2 linked regions of the Homo sapiens genome follow. The protein of the gene in region 1 purifies or fractionates together with the protein of each later gene. This does not show direct contact. Each region holds a gene or a part of one and is shown on either strand. Other genes may lie near its edges. The genes, in order: ANAPC11 and CDC27.

What was found.
Region 2: the proteins of ANAPC11 (region 1) and CDC27 purify together in Homo sapiens (affinity purification with mass spectrometry; 8 studies listed by BioGRID, with this or other methods). This does not show direct contact.

What each region holds. Positions count from the first base shown.
Region 1 is NC_000017.11:81,893,955-81,901,309, forward strand, and holds the end of ANAPC11 (anaphase-promoting complex subunit 11), read left to right. Parts: intron 1-512; 5' UTR 513-523; coding exon 524-632; intron 633-5,287; coding exon of another isoform or gene 5,288-5,588; intron 5,589-5,965; coding exon 5,966-6,111; coding exon of another isoform or gene 6,112-6,196; 3' UTR 6,197-6,301; downstream 6,302-7,355. UniProt on the Homo sapiens protein: Together with the cullin protein ANAPC2, constitutes the catalytic component of the anaphase promoting complex/cyclosome (APC/C), a cell cycle-regulated E3 ubiquitin ligase that controls progression through mitosis and the G1 phase of the cell cycle.
Region 2 is NC_000017.11:47,178,358-47,186,679, forward strand, and holds part of CDC27 (cell division cycle protein 27 homolog), read right to left. Parts: intron 3,281-8,322; coding exon 3,205-3,280; intron 1-3,204. UniProt on the Homo sapiens protein: Component of the anaphase promoting complex/cyclosome (APC/C), a cell cycle-regulated E3 ubiquitin ligase that controls progression through mitosis and the G1 phase of the cell cycle.

The sequences.
Region 1 (7,355 bases):
AGCCCTTTACTTGTTATTTGTTTTAATAGAAACGGGGCTCATAGCAGGGCATAGGGGTTCACGCCTGTAATCCCAGCACTTTGGGAGGCCGCAGTGGCAGATCGCTTGAGGCCAGGAGTTCAAGACCAGCCTGGCCTACATGGTGAAACCTCGACTACTAAAAATACAAAAATTAGTCGGGCGTGGAGTCACGTGCCTATAGCCTCAGCTACTCAGGAGGCCGAAGCACAAGAAATGAGCTGAGATCATGCCACTGCACTACAGCCTGGGTGACAGAGTGAGACTCTGTCTCAAAAAAAAAAAATTAATAAAAATAAAAGTAAAATAAAATAGAAACAGGGCTCACGATGTTTCCCAGGCTGGGTTCGGACTCCTGGGCCGGTATGATCTTCCTGCCTTGGCCCCCTGAGTAGCTGGGACTGCACTGTGGCAGGCTTATACCTGTGTTGGTGCCTAAACGTTCTAGCTCTGCAGACTCAATTTAGCCAGTCGTCCTGTTCCCTCCGCCGCAGGCTCTGCTGCCATGAAGGTGAAGATTAAGTGCTGGAACGGCGTGGCCACTTGGCTCTGGGTGGCCAACGATGAGAACTGTGGCATCTGCAGGATGGCATTTAACGGATGCTGCCCTGACTGTGAGTGTCCCCTCCATGCTGTCTGAGCGGCCCCGACTGTGAGTGTCCCCTCTGTGCTGTCTGCTGCCTGCTGGACTAGCCTCAGTAGCTCCTGTTAAATACCTGCACGAAATACCCAGTTTCATTTTCTTTTTTTTTTTTTTTTTTTGAGACCGAGTTTCGATCTTGTTTCCCAGGCTGGAGTGCAATGGCGCGATCTCGGCTTGCCGCAACCTCTGCCTCCCGGGTTCAAACGGTTCTCCTGCCTCAGCCTTCCAAGCAGCTGGGATTACAGGCATGTGCCACCATGCTGGGCTAATTTTTTTATTTTTAGTAGAGACGGGGTTTTGCCTTGTTGGCTAGGCTGGCCTTGAACTCCTGACCTCAGGTGACCTGCCCGCTTCAGCCTTCCAAAGTGCTGGGATTACAGGTGTGAGCCACTTTGCCTGGCCCACATTTTTATTTTCTTTTCTTTCTTTCTTTTCTTTTTTTTTTTTTTTTTTTTTGAGATGGAGTTTCACTCTTGTTGCCCAGGCTGGAGTGCAATGGCGCGATCTCGGCTCACTGCAACCTCCGCCTCCTGGGCTCAAGCGATTCTCCTGCCTCAGCCTTCCAAGTACCTGGGATCACAGGCATGTGCCACTACACCCGGCTAATTTTGTATTTTTTAGTAGAGACAGGCTTTCTCCATGTTAGGCTGGTCTCGAACTGTCAACCTCAGGTGATCCACCCGCCTCAGCCTCCCAAAGGGATGGGATTACAGGCGCGAACCACCGTGCCCCCCCCAACATTTTCATTTTCATCTCATGAAGAAAAGTTGATAGAAAAAAAGCCAGGTGGTTGGTACCCATGTTTATATAAAGATCCTGTCACAGACTCCATAGGATGAAACTCAGCTGTGAAATACGTGGGATTAAAAAGAGATTAGAGTCTGGGCGGGCAGATCACAAGGTCAAGAGATGGAGGCCGGCATGGCGGCCCACGCCTGTTATTCCAGCACTGTGGGAGGCCGAGGCGGGCGGATCACAAGGTCAAGAGATGGAGGCCGGCACGGTGGCTCACACCTGTCATCCTAGCACTGTGGGAGGCCAAGGTAGGCAGATCACAGGGTCAAGAGATCAAGGCAGGGTGTGGTGGCCCACACTTGTCATCCCAGCACTGTGGGAGGCTGAAGTGGATGGATCTCAAGGTCAGGAGATTGAGACCATCCTGGCCAACATAGTGAAACGCCATCTCTACTAAAAATACAAAAATTAGCTGGGTGTGTGGCGTGTGCCTGTAATCCCAGCTACTGGGGAGGCTGAGGCAGGAGAATCTCTTGAGCCTGGGAGACGGGGGTTGCAGTGAGCCAAGAGCAAGACTCCATCTCAAAAAACAAACAAAAAAAAGATTAGTTTAAACTTTTTATTTGAAAATTCTCAAAATTGAATGGCATAGGCCAGGCGCAGTGGCTCACACCTGTAATCCCACCACTTTGGGAGGCCAAGGCAGGCGGATTGCTTCAGGCCAGGTGTTCGAGACCAGCCTGGCCAACATGGCAAAACCCCGACTCTACTAAAAATCCAAAAAAATTAGCCGGGCATGGTGGCAGGTGCCTGTAATCCCAGCACTTTGGGAGGCCGAGGTGGATGGATCACCTGAGGTCAGGAGTTTGAGACCAGCCTGGCCAACATGGTAAAATCCCGTCTCTACTAAAAATACAAAAAAGTAGCCGGGCATGGTGGTGCATGCCTGTAATCCCAGCTACTCAGGAGGCTGAGGCAAAAGAATCGCTTGAACCTGGGAGGCAGATGTTGTGGTGAGCCAAGATCGCACCATTGCACTCCAGCCTGGGCAACAAGAGTGAAACTCCATCTCAAAAAAAAAGAAAAAAAGTGGAAATGTTTGATTATGTTTAGGTTGAAAGCAGAGTTTTGCATCAGCGAAATGGTTTTTCATGAGACCGAAATGAGCGTAAAGCAGAAGCAAGGGTCAAGGTTTTGCCCAGGGAGGACAAGAAGAACTCCCCAGAGGACAGTGGGGAATGGAGAGGACAGTGGGGAATGGGGAGGACCGAGAAGCTACTCACTACCCCAAGTAACCAGGCGTATTTTTGTAGGGCCAGGTGCATGCCCATATTGATTGACAGGGTCTCACTGTGTTGCCCAAGCTGGACGTGAACTCCTGGGCTCCAGCCATCCTACTGTCTCAGCCTCCCAAGTAGCATACCACCACACTCATCTGCCTCCTTTGCTTTTTTTTTTTTTTTTTTTTTTTTTTTTTTTTGAGATAGAGTCTTGCCCTGTTGCTCAGACTGGAGTGCAATGGCACCATCTCAGCTCACCGCAACCCCCACCCTTCTGAGTTCAAAGGATTCTCCGGCCTCAGCCTCCCAAGTAGCTGGGATTACAGGCATGCACCACCACAGCCAGCTAATTTGTTGTATTTTTATTTTTATTTATTTATTTATTTTCGAGACAGAGTCTCACTCTGTCACCAGGGCTGGAGTGCAGTGGCACGATCTTGGCTCACTGCAACTTCCGCCTCCCTAGTTCAAGTGATTCTCCTGCCTCAGCTTTCCGAATAGCTGGGACTACAGGCGCTCGCCGCCATGCCCAGCTAATTTTTGTAGTTTTAACAGAAATGGGGTTTCACCATGTTGGCCAGGATGGTCTCGATCTCTTGACCTCGTGATCCGCCCACCTCAGCCTCCCAAAGTGCTGGGATTACAGGCATGAGCCACTGCGCCCAGCCCTTGTTGTATTTTTAGCAGAGACAGGGTTTCACCATGTTGGCCGGGCTGGTCTTAAAACTCCTGACCTCAGGTGATCCGTCCACCTCGGCCTCCCAAAGTACCAGGATTACAGGTGTGAGCCACTGCACCCGCCCCTGTCTTTGCTTCTTAAGGTGAAATTGAGATGACTGAATCTTAGTACAATTTTTTTTTTTTGAGACAGGGTCTTGCTGTCACCCAGGCGGCAGTGCAGTGTGGCAAAATCATAGCTCACTGTAGCCTTCAATTCCTCAGCTCAAGTGATCCTCCCACCTCCACCTCTCAAGTAGCTGGGACCACAGGCATGCTCCACAATGCCTGGCTAATTTTTTATTTTTTTATTTTTTGTAGAGACAGGGTTTTGCTATGTTGCCAAGGCTAGTCTTGAACTCCTGGGCTCAAGGGATCTGCCTGCCTTGGCATACCAAAGTGCTGGGATTACAGACGTGAGCCACCATGCCTGAACAAAACTACATAAATTTTTAATTTTTTTTGTGGAAATGGAGTCTCACTATGTTTCCCAGGCTGGTCTCAAACTCTTGGCTCTGTCCTGCCACAGCCTCCCAAAGTGCTGGGATTATAGGTGTGGCGCCTGGCCCGTACAAATACTTTTTATTCTAGGCTTAACTTTTACATTGGCCCTAGCTAAATAGAAATCTCATCACTCAGGAATTAATCCTCATTTAATCAAACGGGTAGGGTGTAATCTTAGGAAATTATTGATTGACTCTACCTGATTGGATTTGTAGTTAATAGCTAATTAGGTTAATAACTAAATTCACAAGGCACAGTTTTATTTGATCTCTTTTAAATTGCTCTTAAGGATGTAACAAAGAGTGCGTGGGATGCCCTGAGGGCAGGCATTCGACTTCTGGAGCAGCAGCTTAACTTCTGAAATTCCTCCGAACCATGTGTCCACACCTCGTCTGGCTGCATCCGTGGGCCAGATGTGGGTGGTGAATCCTGTGGATTAGAGGTGGTGCTAGGTAGCCCCCAAGTGACTGCAGTGGTGGGTCCACAGGCAGCCTGCAGAGCCCGCCCTGCAGCATGCCAGCTGGGCCTGTGATGGGGCATCCAGAGGGTGTTGCCCTGAACACTCAGCATGTCTCCGCTGACACAGTGTGCTCAGGCTTTGTTAACATGGGGCCTGTTGGCTGCAGAGACTCAGGAGTTGAGAGTCTAATTTTTGGACCTGCTGATGGTTAAGTCATAGTGAGTCAGTGTTAACGCGCAAAGCGTTTGACGAGTCCAATGTGCTTCCATACTAAGCAGCACCAGGTTTCTTTTGCTAAAATTGAACTCCTGTGAAAAATTCAGAGTGACTAAGTTCATTCAACAAAGACCGTGGGAGCCCGAGGCTGGTAAACAATGAGTCCATCCCGCATCCCAGGGGACTCTGGTGGCAGTGCAGTTTTGCCGAGAGGAGTTTTAATTTAAAAAAATGCAATCAGGAGACCAGCAGGTCCTGGAATGAGTCACCCTCAGTGCATCTGCGGACTCATCAGACACCCCAGGCCGGCTTCGGGTGGGGAATGCACTAGAACGAAGTGACACCTTTGACTAAACGAGGCCTCCCCCGAGTACTCAGAGTGGCCCAGACCCCTCTCCTCAGGGGGCTAGCAGGCTTCAGCTCTCATTTGAAAGGGCCGATATCAAGCAGAGTTGTGCTGAGGCCAGAAACCCCCACGGGCAGGTCCTCCCAGGGCTGGGAGTGGGCATGCCGTGGGGCCGGCGCTGCCAGGACAGGAGGGTGGCCACGAGCTCCAGCTCCACAATGCCAGGCCGACCCTGCCGTGGGGCTGGGGCTGGGACTTGCTGTGCTCTGTTGGCAGCAGCTGTTCCTCAGGGGTTTCCAGGCTCTTGGAGATCAGGGACACTCATTTCTCTTGATCATGGCTGATACAAGCATCCCTCTCTGTGTCAGGTCCTCTCCATGGAGAAAGCATTTCTAGGTGTTTGGGCTGGTGCCCGCAGCCTGTGCCTGTCCTGGGAGGCAGGGCCCATCCACAGGTGCCCATCAACACAGCTTCCCCAACGCCTGGGCAGCACACCGGATCCCTGATGTCTAGGGAAGAGTCTTCTAGGTCCCCAGACCCCACCCCTCCTGCCCTTGATCAAGAGACCAGTTCACTACTCAGATGCACGTCTCCTTGGTGCCTTGACCATTCATGTGACCTTTTTGGCATCACAGATCAAGTGTCTGCAGATGGGCCCAGGGCCTGTAGGTCAGACATTGCCCTTTTTCCCCAGCCTCAAGCACAGGGGACACAGGGTGGGCTAGGCCAGAGCGCCACCTCCTCAGAGAGGCCCCTGGGCTCCCCACTGAGCATGATGAGCCTGGGTGAGGGGAGGCGCCTGCTGCGGTTGCCCCGGGTGGAGGCCGCATGTCCGGTGTCCCTTGGTCATTGCTGGTCTTCGCCTGGGGGCGGGCTGGTCAGGAGACCGATTGGGTAACACTCCTGATTTCGGCTTCTCTGAAACATGAGAGGCTGCAGTGCTGGAGCCACTGCCCAGGGTCCCTACCTGCACCCCTGCCTGGCTTGTCACATGCTCTGTGTCCAGCCTGGTCATGCCTGTCCTTTTCCCCACCTCCCCTCCGTAGGCAAGGTGCCCGGCGACGACTGCCCGCTGGTGTGGGGCCAGTGCTCCCACTGCTTCCACATGCATTGCATCCTCAAGTGGCTGCACGCACAGCAGGTGCAGCAGCACTGCCCCATGTGCCGCCAGGAATGGAAGTTCAAGGAGTGAGGCCCGACCTGGCTCTCGCTGGAGGGGCATCCTGAGACTCCTTCCTCATGCTGGCGCCGATGGCTGCTGGGGACAGCGCCCCTGAGCTGCAACAAGGTGGAAACAAGGGCTGGAGCTGCGTTTGTTTTGCCATCACTATGTTGACACTTTTATCCAATAAGTGAAAACTCATTAAACTACTCAAATCTTGCTGGAGGCCTCTGGGTGCCTGTGTTCTCGGCATATAGATGTGGTCTCGGTGTGTTTTGATATGAAAACTCTCATGAATAAACATCTCCGTGAAACGCCAAGGCCCTCGTCAAACCCTGAGTCATGACTGGGAGGAGAAGGAGCAGGATCAGACGGTAGAGCCTGGGGCATGCTCTTCAGGCATGCTCTTGCCTGCTGGATTGCCGGCGGCGGCCCTGGGACCCTCCCTCAGGCTGGCTCTGAGGGACCCTGGCTGTGCAAAGCTGGCGGCCACTGCTTGTGGCGCCTCCAGACTGAAGGCCACCATCTCTGAGTGGGCGTCCATTGTTCTCACTGGGACTGTCTGCAGCGGGGCTGGGCCTCCCACAGTGTAGGGATCAGTGTCCTGACACTGGGAAGTGTGTCCACACGTCTGAGGCTTCCCTTCCTAGGGAAAGGTGGCCCTGGGAGGCTCCTTTGTGTGCCTCTGCTCCCCACAATCGTGGTGGGAAGGGGCCGCTGGGGGAGTGGCAGCCCCGGCATCTCAGGCTGCTTCTGGACAGAGCACAGGCTGTGTCTCCAGTAACCTAGGGAGCCCTTGGCATTCATGGGGCCAGTGACCCGTGCCCAGTGTCTCTTGACCCTTCCTCACAGCAACCTGAGGAGTAGACCAGGCCTCACCTGAAATCTGTGTCAGGGTTCTCTAGAGAGACAGGACTCTATATGAAGAGTATATATGAAGAGTTTATTGGGAGTATTGACTCACGTGATCACAAGGTGAAGTCCCACAATAAGCCATGTGCAAGGTGAGGAGCAAGGAAGCCAGTCTGAGTCCCAAAACAAAAGTAGAGAAGCCGATAGTGCAGCCTTCATCCTGTGGCCAAAGGCTGCAGAGCCCCTGGCAAGCCACTGGTGTAGGTCCGAGAGTCCAAAAGCTGAAGAACCTGGAGGCCGACGTGCGAGGGCGGGAAGCATCCAGCATGGGAGAAAGATGGAGGCCAGATTCAGCCAGTCTAGTCTTTCCACGTTCCTCTGCCTGCTTGTATCCTGGCTGTGCTGGCAGCCGATTAGGTGGT
Region 2 (8,322 bases), about 35 Mb from region 1:
AGATCTCGTGTTCTCAAAAATACAAAAATTAGCTGGGCATGGTAGCATGTGCCTGTAGTCTCATCTAGTAGGGAGGTTGAGGTGGGAGGATTGTTTGGGCCTGGGAGGTCAAGGCTGAAGTGAGAAAAGATCACATGACTGCACTCCAACCTGGGTGACAGGCTATCTCAAAAATAAATAAATAAATAAAAATAAGAAAAAAAAAAAAAAACCCTGAAAAGTCACTGTATTAGGATATGTTAGGGGAGAGGGAACCTGTAAAGGACTTTCTATGTGCCAGAAACTACAGCAGACTCTTTACATATTTTACTGTATTTAGTCCTTAAAACTATCTTGTTAAACAGATATTTCTCTTCTATTTTAAAGATAAGGAAAATAAGGCTCAGAATGACTTTTGGCTTAAGATCAAATGGCAAATGAGTATCTGAATTCAGATTCTCTTTCCTTTTTCCGTTTTTTTTTTGAGACGGAGTCTCGCTCTGTTGCCCAGGCTGGAGTGCAGTGGTGTAATCTCGGCTCACCGCAACCTCCGCCTCCCGGGTTCAAGCAATTCTCCTGCCTCAGCCTCCTGGGTGGCTGGGATTACAGGCATGTGCCACTACACCGGCTAATTTTGTATTTTTTAGTAGAGATGGGGTTTCTCCATGTTGGTCAGGCTGGTCTCAAATTCCCAACCTCAGGTGATCTGCCCACCTCAGCCTCCCAGATTCTCTCTTATATCATTCTGCTGTTCCTTCTTTCTGATCCCACAGTCTCAGGCCGACTATAAATCTCGAGAGAAAGACAAATGGGCGACAAAGAACTAGTGAAACTGAGAAATTATTTCAAGAATTTGACTTACAGAAGATCCTACTGATCAACTGCTTTAGCCTCATGCCTTGTTGGATGTCTTTCTCCAAATATAGAAACTGCTACTAGTGACATAGGAGGCCCCTGAGCAAACAGGTTACATCTAGCATATCAACTGATATTGTCCACCAAGAAAACTGTTGCCAAGAATTCTGAGGTTGGTTCAGTGGGAATGAGTACTGTAATGGATTAGTGATGCCTACTATGGTTGCAAATCAGAGAAGTGGTAATTGCTACTCTTGGGAAAGCGGAATCAGACAGATTACTAGTTACCGCCTGTGGACATTAGTCTCAGTTCTTCATCCAGAAAATGGCAATAGCAATGTCTATTTGATAGGATTATTGAAGATTAAATTAGTAACTAATATTAAATACTTAGAGTACCTAGTATACAGTAAGAAATCAATAAGTGATAGAATTATTGTTATTATTACTGAGCCAGGATAGTATCTGCTCTTACTACACTTAATTCTAAAATCTTTCCTCATATAAATATGGTTAAACCGAATGGTGAGGTTCTATATTGAAAGAAACTAACATTTACTGAGCAACTTTCCAAGTGCCAAGCATTGTATCAGGTACATAAATAACGTGGATTAAACAGCTTTATGTGGACTAATCTGGGAATCTTGCCACCAATTCTATGGGAAAATCTAATTGAATTCTAAACCATGAATTTACAATTTTTAAGAGCCTAACTATAATAAACTAGAAACTGCCTATTCTTTAATAATAAACAAAAACAAAAAGGAAATACTAGAAATAGAAGACAGTGGCCGAGTACAGTGGCTCACATCTGTAACTCCAGCTCTTTGGGAGGCTGAGGCAGGAGGATCACTTCAGTCCAGGAGTTCAAGGCTGCAGTGAGCTATGATTGTGCCACTGTACTCTAGCCTGGGCGACAGAGTGAGATTCTGACTCAACAAAAATTTTTAAAAATACAGCAAAATATGGGGCCTGCCTAGGTATCAATGAAAATATTTTTAAATAGATTATTCACAATAAACATCACTTTTGCATAAGTGAATGGAGTAGATTAATCTATTGTATAATCTTCTTTCTAAGCCTTCCATTCCTTCTCACCTTTCTAATCTTTTCATTGGGACCTTAAACTCCTGCTGCCCAGATCTTCCTCACTTTTCTCACTGAATTCCCATTCTCCACCGAGGAGACAGCTCTCTCACATGGACAGTAATCACCTTACATCCCACTATCTCAGAGTCAAGGTAAGGCTGGTTTCCACTTAACTTCTCAAAACTACTTCCAAGCATTGCTCTTTGTCCTTTTGTGAAATTTCCTGCCCCTGAGGTTTAGGCCTTGTTCTCACAACTCTCAGCTACTAAACCCATACTGTTTGACTTGTAAATTCCATTTAAAAGTACATAACCCAAGGAAATGACTCAAAAAAAAAAAAAAGCTGTACACAATGATCTATATCAGCATCTTAGAAAGGGAATTATAATAATGACAGAAACAAAACATACATTATCAGTGGTGTTTATTAAGCATTGATTACCAAGCCAGATGGCTGTGCTAAGGGCTTTAAATAAACCATCTCATTGAATTTTTAATTCTAAGGGGCAATGATTATTTTATAGATGAAATATCTGAATTTTCAGATATTAAAGTAACTCGTCCAAGGTTATAAAACTGTACATTTAAGTGACAGGTTAGGATTTGTTCCAAGGCTATAGAGTCTAAATCCATGTTCTTCACCATAGAATACAGACTCTTTTCTTAAAAAAAAAAAAAAAAAAAAAAAATACATGGCATGGTGGCCCATGAGTATAATCCCAGCACTTTGGGAGGCCAAGGCAGGTGGATCACCTAAGCTCAGGAATTTGAGACCAGCCTGGGCAACATAGCAAAACCCTATCTCTACCAAAAAAAAAAAAAAAATTAGCCAGGCGTGGTGGTCCGTGCCTGCGGTCCCAGCTACTTGGGAGGCTGATGTGGGAGGATCGCTTGAGCCTGGGAGGTAGAGGTTGCAGTGAGCTGAGATGGTCCCACTGTACTCCAACATGGGTGACAGAGTGAGACCCTGTTTCAAAAAAAAAAAAAAAAAAAAAAAAAAAAAAAACCCAAAACAACAAAAACCCTGGGGGAAAAAAAAACCTAAAGATTGAAAAATGATTAAGTAAATCATAGCATATAAACCTGAATCAATTCTACATAGTTATTAAAAGTAGTATGTAAGGGAACTACACAGAAAAAAAGTAAAGATTTTATGAACTAGTGTCAATCAGAAAAACAACAAGATGATGATAGCTAGAATCTTGTTACAGTGATAAAAAGTTATGGAATTTCATATATGTTATTCATTTATCATTCTACAGCAATGAATAGATTTCAAACCTTCTGCATAAAGGCGTTCTGCGAGGAAAACCGCATCTCGGTAAGCATAGTGGTTTAGTGCTTGCCATATAGCAGCCTGCAAATGGAGGAAAAAGAACATAAATATACATACATACAGACTTTCAAGGTAACTACTAGCACACAGCCTTACATCAAATACTGAAATTAATATCCCTAATTTAAGTGATAAAACCCCAATGCCCACAGAGCAAACTCCAGAGTGTGCCGGGCAAGGCTCTTCACAGTATGGCTCCTAACATATCTGAATTTCCTCACTCAACTCTCTATGGACTTTTAGGCTTCTGTGCCTTTGTACACCCTTTTCCTCCATTGGGCAATGTGGGCTCCCCTCACCAGTCTCCCCTTATAAACTGCTCGTCCCTAAAGATCCAGCTTAAATAACATCTGCCCCATAAAGCTTTCCTGGCTGATGTCAAGCCATTTCTTTTTTAAGATACCTCTTCTAGTAGAGCACTCATAACATGGTTATTTGTTAACAGGACTGCCAACCCTACTAAACTACAGACTTTTAGCAGCAGTGGTTCTCAACCACTTTATGTGATATACATGACAGAGATATTAAAATGTATGTCATCCTCCCACAAAAACTTCCCTATCTATTACCTTTAATGCCACTCAATTCTCATCCACTCCAGGAAGCATATTGGAATGCAAATGAGTAAAGTTATCATAGGAATAACTTTTAATTTTTTGAATATATGTTTTCTCTTTTAGAATTACAAAACATATAACCTAAAGTATATATGAGATAGAAGGACATTTTAAGTAACAATAACCAAAGACATTTAGGCCCATGTACTCACCACCCAGCTTAAGAAATAAAATATCTCTGAAACTCCCTGTGTGTTCCTTGTTGATACCAAAACCTCTCCCTGCCCCAAAGAGGAAACCACCACACTGAATTTTCTTGACCTTTCTCTTGGTTTTCTTCACAATTTTATACATTTGTACATATCATCTCTAAGCAGTATAACATTTACTTTTTCCTGTTTTTGAACTTTAAATAAATACAATCATATTGTATACATTCTGCTACGATTTGCTTTTGAAATCCAATGTTTTGAAAATTCATTCTTGATGTGTGTAGCTAGAGTTCATTTGTTTTCATTGCTGAATAAATAATATTTCCATTGTATAAACATATCAAAATCCAAAATGTATTTTATCTATTTTACAGCATGTGGACATTTGGGTTATTTCTAGGGTGTTTTTTTGTTTTGTTTTGTTTTTCCAATTATAACAATGCTGCAACAGTCTTAGATTCATCTCCTGGGGTATATATTTAAGAATCTCTCCAGCCTATCACGGTGGTGTGAGCCTTTAGTCCCAGCGACTCAGAAGGCTGAGCTGGGAAGACTGCTTGAGTCCAGGAGTTCAAGGCTATGATCATACCTGTGAATAGCTGCTGGAGTGCAATAGGAGCAAGACTCCCATCAAAAAAACACAAAAAAGAATCTCTCCAAATTAGGATATATATTTAGGAATAAAATTACTGGGTTGTTGAATATGCATATGTTCATCTTTACTAGGTAATGTCAAATCATTTTTAGTAATAAACTACTTTTGAGATATCTCACACCTGATCATGATACAAGCGTTATTTTTTATTTTTAGCACATACACCAGCTTATAATTTGTTGAATGATTTAAAAAGGTTACAACGGAAACCAGTAAAATCTGGTTACTGATCACTAGCTAACATTGTACCAGTACATCTAAATTATATTAAGTGATTAATATGCCTTAGATACAGTAAAGGCTCAACAAATTTTGTTGAACAAACAAGTAAATGTTTAATAATTCTGCAATGAGTATATTAATTATAATTTTAAAAATAAAAGTAGTAAATGACTTAGCCCTTTCTATTTCCTCAAGAAAGAACAGTAATGAACTTAGTTTGGGATCTCCAGAGCCTCTTGTTTAACCTTTGTTTATATAGCTTAAATTTTATAAAGTCTCAAAGATGTCTAATTTTACCATTCCTATCTAGATACAAGGAAAAAGATGAGATTAGGCACCATTATTATACACTCTAATTGCACCAAGTACCTTTCCTTTGTAATACTTCCCACTGCTATAATTCTGTATTAATTTAGGAGAGTATTTGAGTGATGTTTTCCTTACTATATTACAAACTCCACAAGGTAGGGGCTACGTCTGTTTTTGCTCATTATTATACTCCCAGTATCCATTATGTGCTTTTAAAGCAGGTGCTTATATGTTGAATGAATAAGCAAATGATCTTTAATTTCTAGCAGTCTTCCACTGTTGACACTCTTGTACGTTAGTCTTAGCATTAAGTTTCTTTGTATTCCTAGATGTATATCTAATAATAAAGAATCTCTGGGAGTCTCTATTGAAAGAAACTCTGTGATAAATAGAAGAATTATTTTATTATGCAAATAATTACCACCAAATTACTCCTTTATGAAATCTGGGATTTCCTAAGAACCTACATGTTTAATTTTGCTGTAAGTGAAAGAAAATGGTGAGTAGAATGAAGATACCAAAGATTTGATGTTTGGAGACGTGCTCAAATTTGTGTGCCAGCACTTCCAGTAGTGGGACTTTGTGGGAAATACTCAACTTTTCTCAGCCTCAATCTCTTCATCTGATAAATGGAGTTTATTTATTGGAGTTGTTTTGTGGATTAAATGAAATGATCCATTTATAATGCTCCTAGTATACTATCATACATTAAGCACTTGGAAAACCTTTTCCTTGCCAATCTCTTAATATAAAGAAATTCAATAAATATGTAGTTTCTGTTGCATAACATCTCCCCAGCATACCTGCTACAACTGCTTATTTTGCAATATATAAGCCACAAAAGACTCAAATGATTTACCAGCTATTTTACTACTATGGACCACTAGGAAAATTTCACACACATATACTAAAGTCAAAAAGTCCTAGAGCTTTGAAATTTTTTCTGTCCTTTTAAAATTAAAGAAATAAGAGGCAAGGGCGGGGGGAAAAAAGAAGGAAAAAAGGTATCATATTCAAGAGTTGTATCCATTTCTGACTTAAAATCAAGCTTTGCTCAGAACATCATTCCCTTATCACCAGTTCTTAAGAGCATCAGAAAAAACTTGCCATCTCGAGAATCTCACATACTGCTTCCATCCCGCTTTGCTCAATCAATTCTAAGTTCCTGACTAACAGTGTCTCTTGTGCCGGGATTGGGGGGAAGAACAGATTATTCTCTAAGGCACTACAGATTAGTAGCTGATGATGAACAGGGCTAAAATCAGCACCTCTGCCCAACTGATGGTGTGGGCCTTCCCTTAAAAGAACACCCAGTGCATTACCGCTAGAGTTCTACAAATTAAAGCCAGATGAACGAAATGCTGCTAAAAGAAAGTTATGAAGCCAAAAAGAACAACGCTCCTCTCCCTCTCCCCTAAAAAATGTTTAAGAGAAATCTGACTGATTAATGGGTTAGTCCCCAGGTGCACTAATTTAAAAGATAAATAAACCAACAGCTTAAAGTTGCAAAATTCCTTACCAGCTAGCTATTCTTAAATATAAAATATTATTTAAAATATAAACAAACCTCTATAAGTTGTACTTAGACTTAAATGTAATCACTATAAATTTTTCTCTTTTTTTTTGAGACAGAGTCTCACTCTGTCACCCAGGCTGGAGTGCAGTGGCGCGATCTCGGCTCACTGCAAGCTCCACCTCCTGGGTTCACGCCATTCTCCTGCCTCAGCCTCCTGAGTAGCTGGGACTACAGGTGCCTGCCACCATGCCCGGCTAATTTTTTTTGTATTTTTAGTAGAGAAGGAATGGTTTCACCCTGTTGGCCAGGATGGTCTCGATCTCCTGACCTCGTGATCCGCCTGCCTCAGCCCCCCAAAGTGCTGGGATTACAGGCGTGAGGCACCGCGCCCGGCCTGTAATCATTATAAATTTTTTGTTAGAGAAAGCTTATTACAAAAAATTTGTTTACTTGTTTTTGTTAAATTTTTTATACATTTTGTGTTCTTGTTTTTGTCAAAAAAGCTGTCTTTATTTTATTTTATTTGTTGGTCTTGAACTCCTTGGCTCAAGTGATCTGTCTGCCTCAGCCTCTGAAAGTGCTGGGATTACAAGCGTGAGCCACTGTGCCCAGTCAGCTGCCCTTTTTTAAAAACCATAAAATAAATGGATAATAAAGGCTTCAGACAATGTAAGAAGATACAAAGAAAAAAATCACTGTTGAAATTTCATATTATACATTATAATTGAATTTCTAGGATACTGATTTAGTTTAGATGCACGTCAGTGGTTCTTACTCTGGGCAATTTTGCCTTCTTACTCCCAATTAATGCCCCAACATTTAGCAATGTCTAGAGGGTATTTTTGGTTGTCACAAATGGAGGGGTCATCCAGTGGTTAGAAGCCAGGGATGCTACAAAACATTCTACAATGCACAGCTTCCAACAAAGTATTAGCTTGCCCCAAATGTCAATAGTGCTCAGATTAAGCAGCCCTGGTCTACATGATCATGCAGTTGGATTATTCTACTAGTCTGTATGTCTAACTCTTGTCTCTTCCTCCCTTTCCAACAGCACCAGATAAATATTCCCAAAGTGGTGCTTTTATTACATAATTCCTCTGCTCAAAAACTCTTCTGCTCATATAATGGTTATTCATTACCAATGCACATTAAATCTAAATTTCTCATTGAGTAGCCAAAATATGTTACTCTTTGAATCCATGTTAGATGCTGTCCCTGAACATTTTATCCCCAGCCAAGAGTACTCCTTCACCATCTAATGATCTCTAAAACAGTATCATGTATATAGTACCCAATTGCTATATTGCTTATTAAATTAATTTTCGAAAGGCTTATTTACAACTTCATCCAACACTTCTGTGAAGTCTTACCCCTAGGAATAATTGCTAAATCTATATAAAATCTCTTTGCTTCTTTTTTAAAAACCAATTTCACCAGGTGACTTTTATAAATATTCAAAAAGCTCTCACTGAAGTCACTTAGGCTAGTGTGTCTTTCCAAATAGTTACCATTAAAAATAAAAGAACTGACAGAAATTCTGCCTCATATGTGAGACTTTTGTAAGGACTCAAATATAAAGTAATACTCTTCTG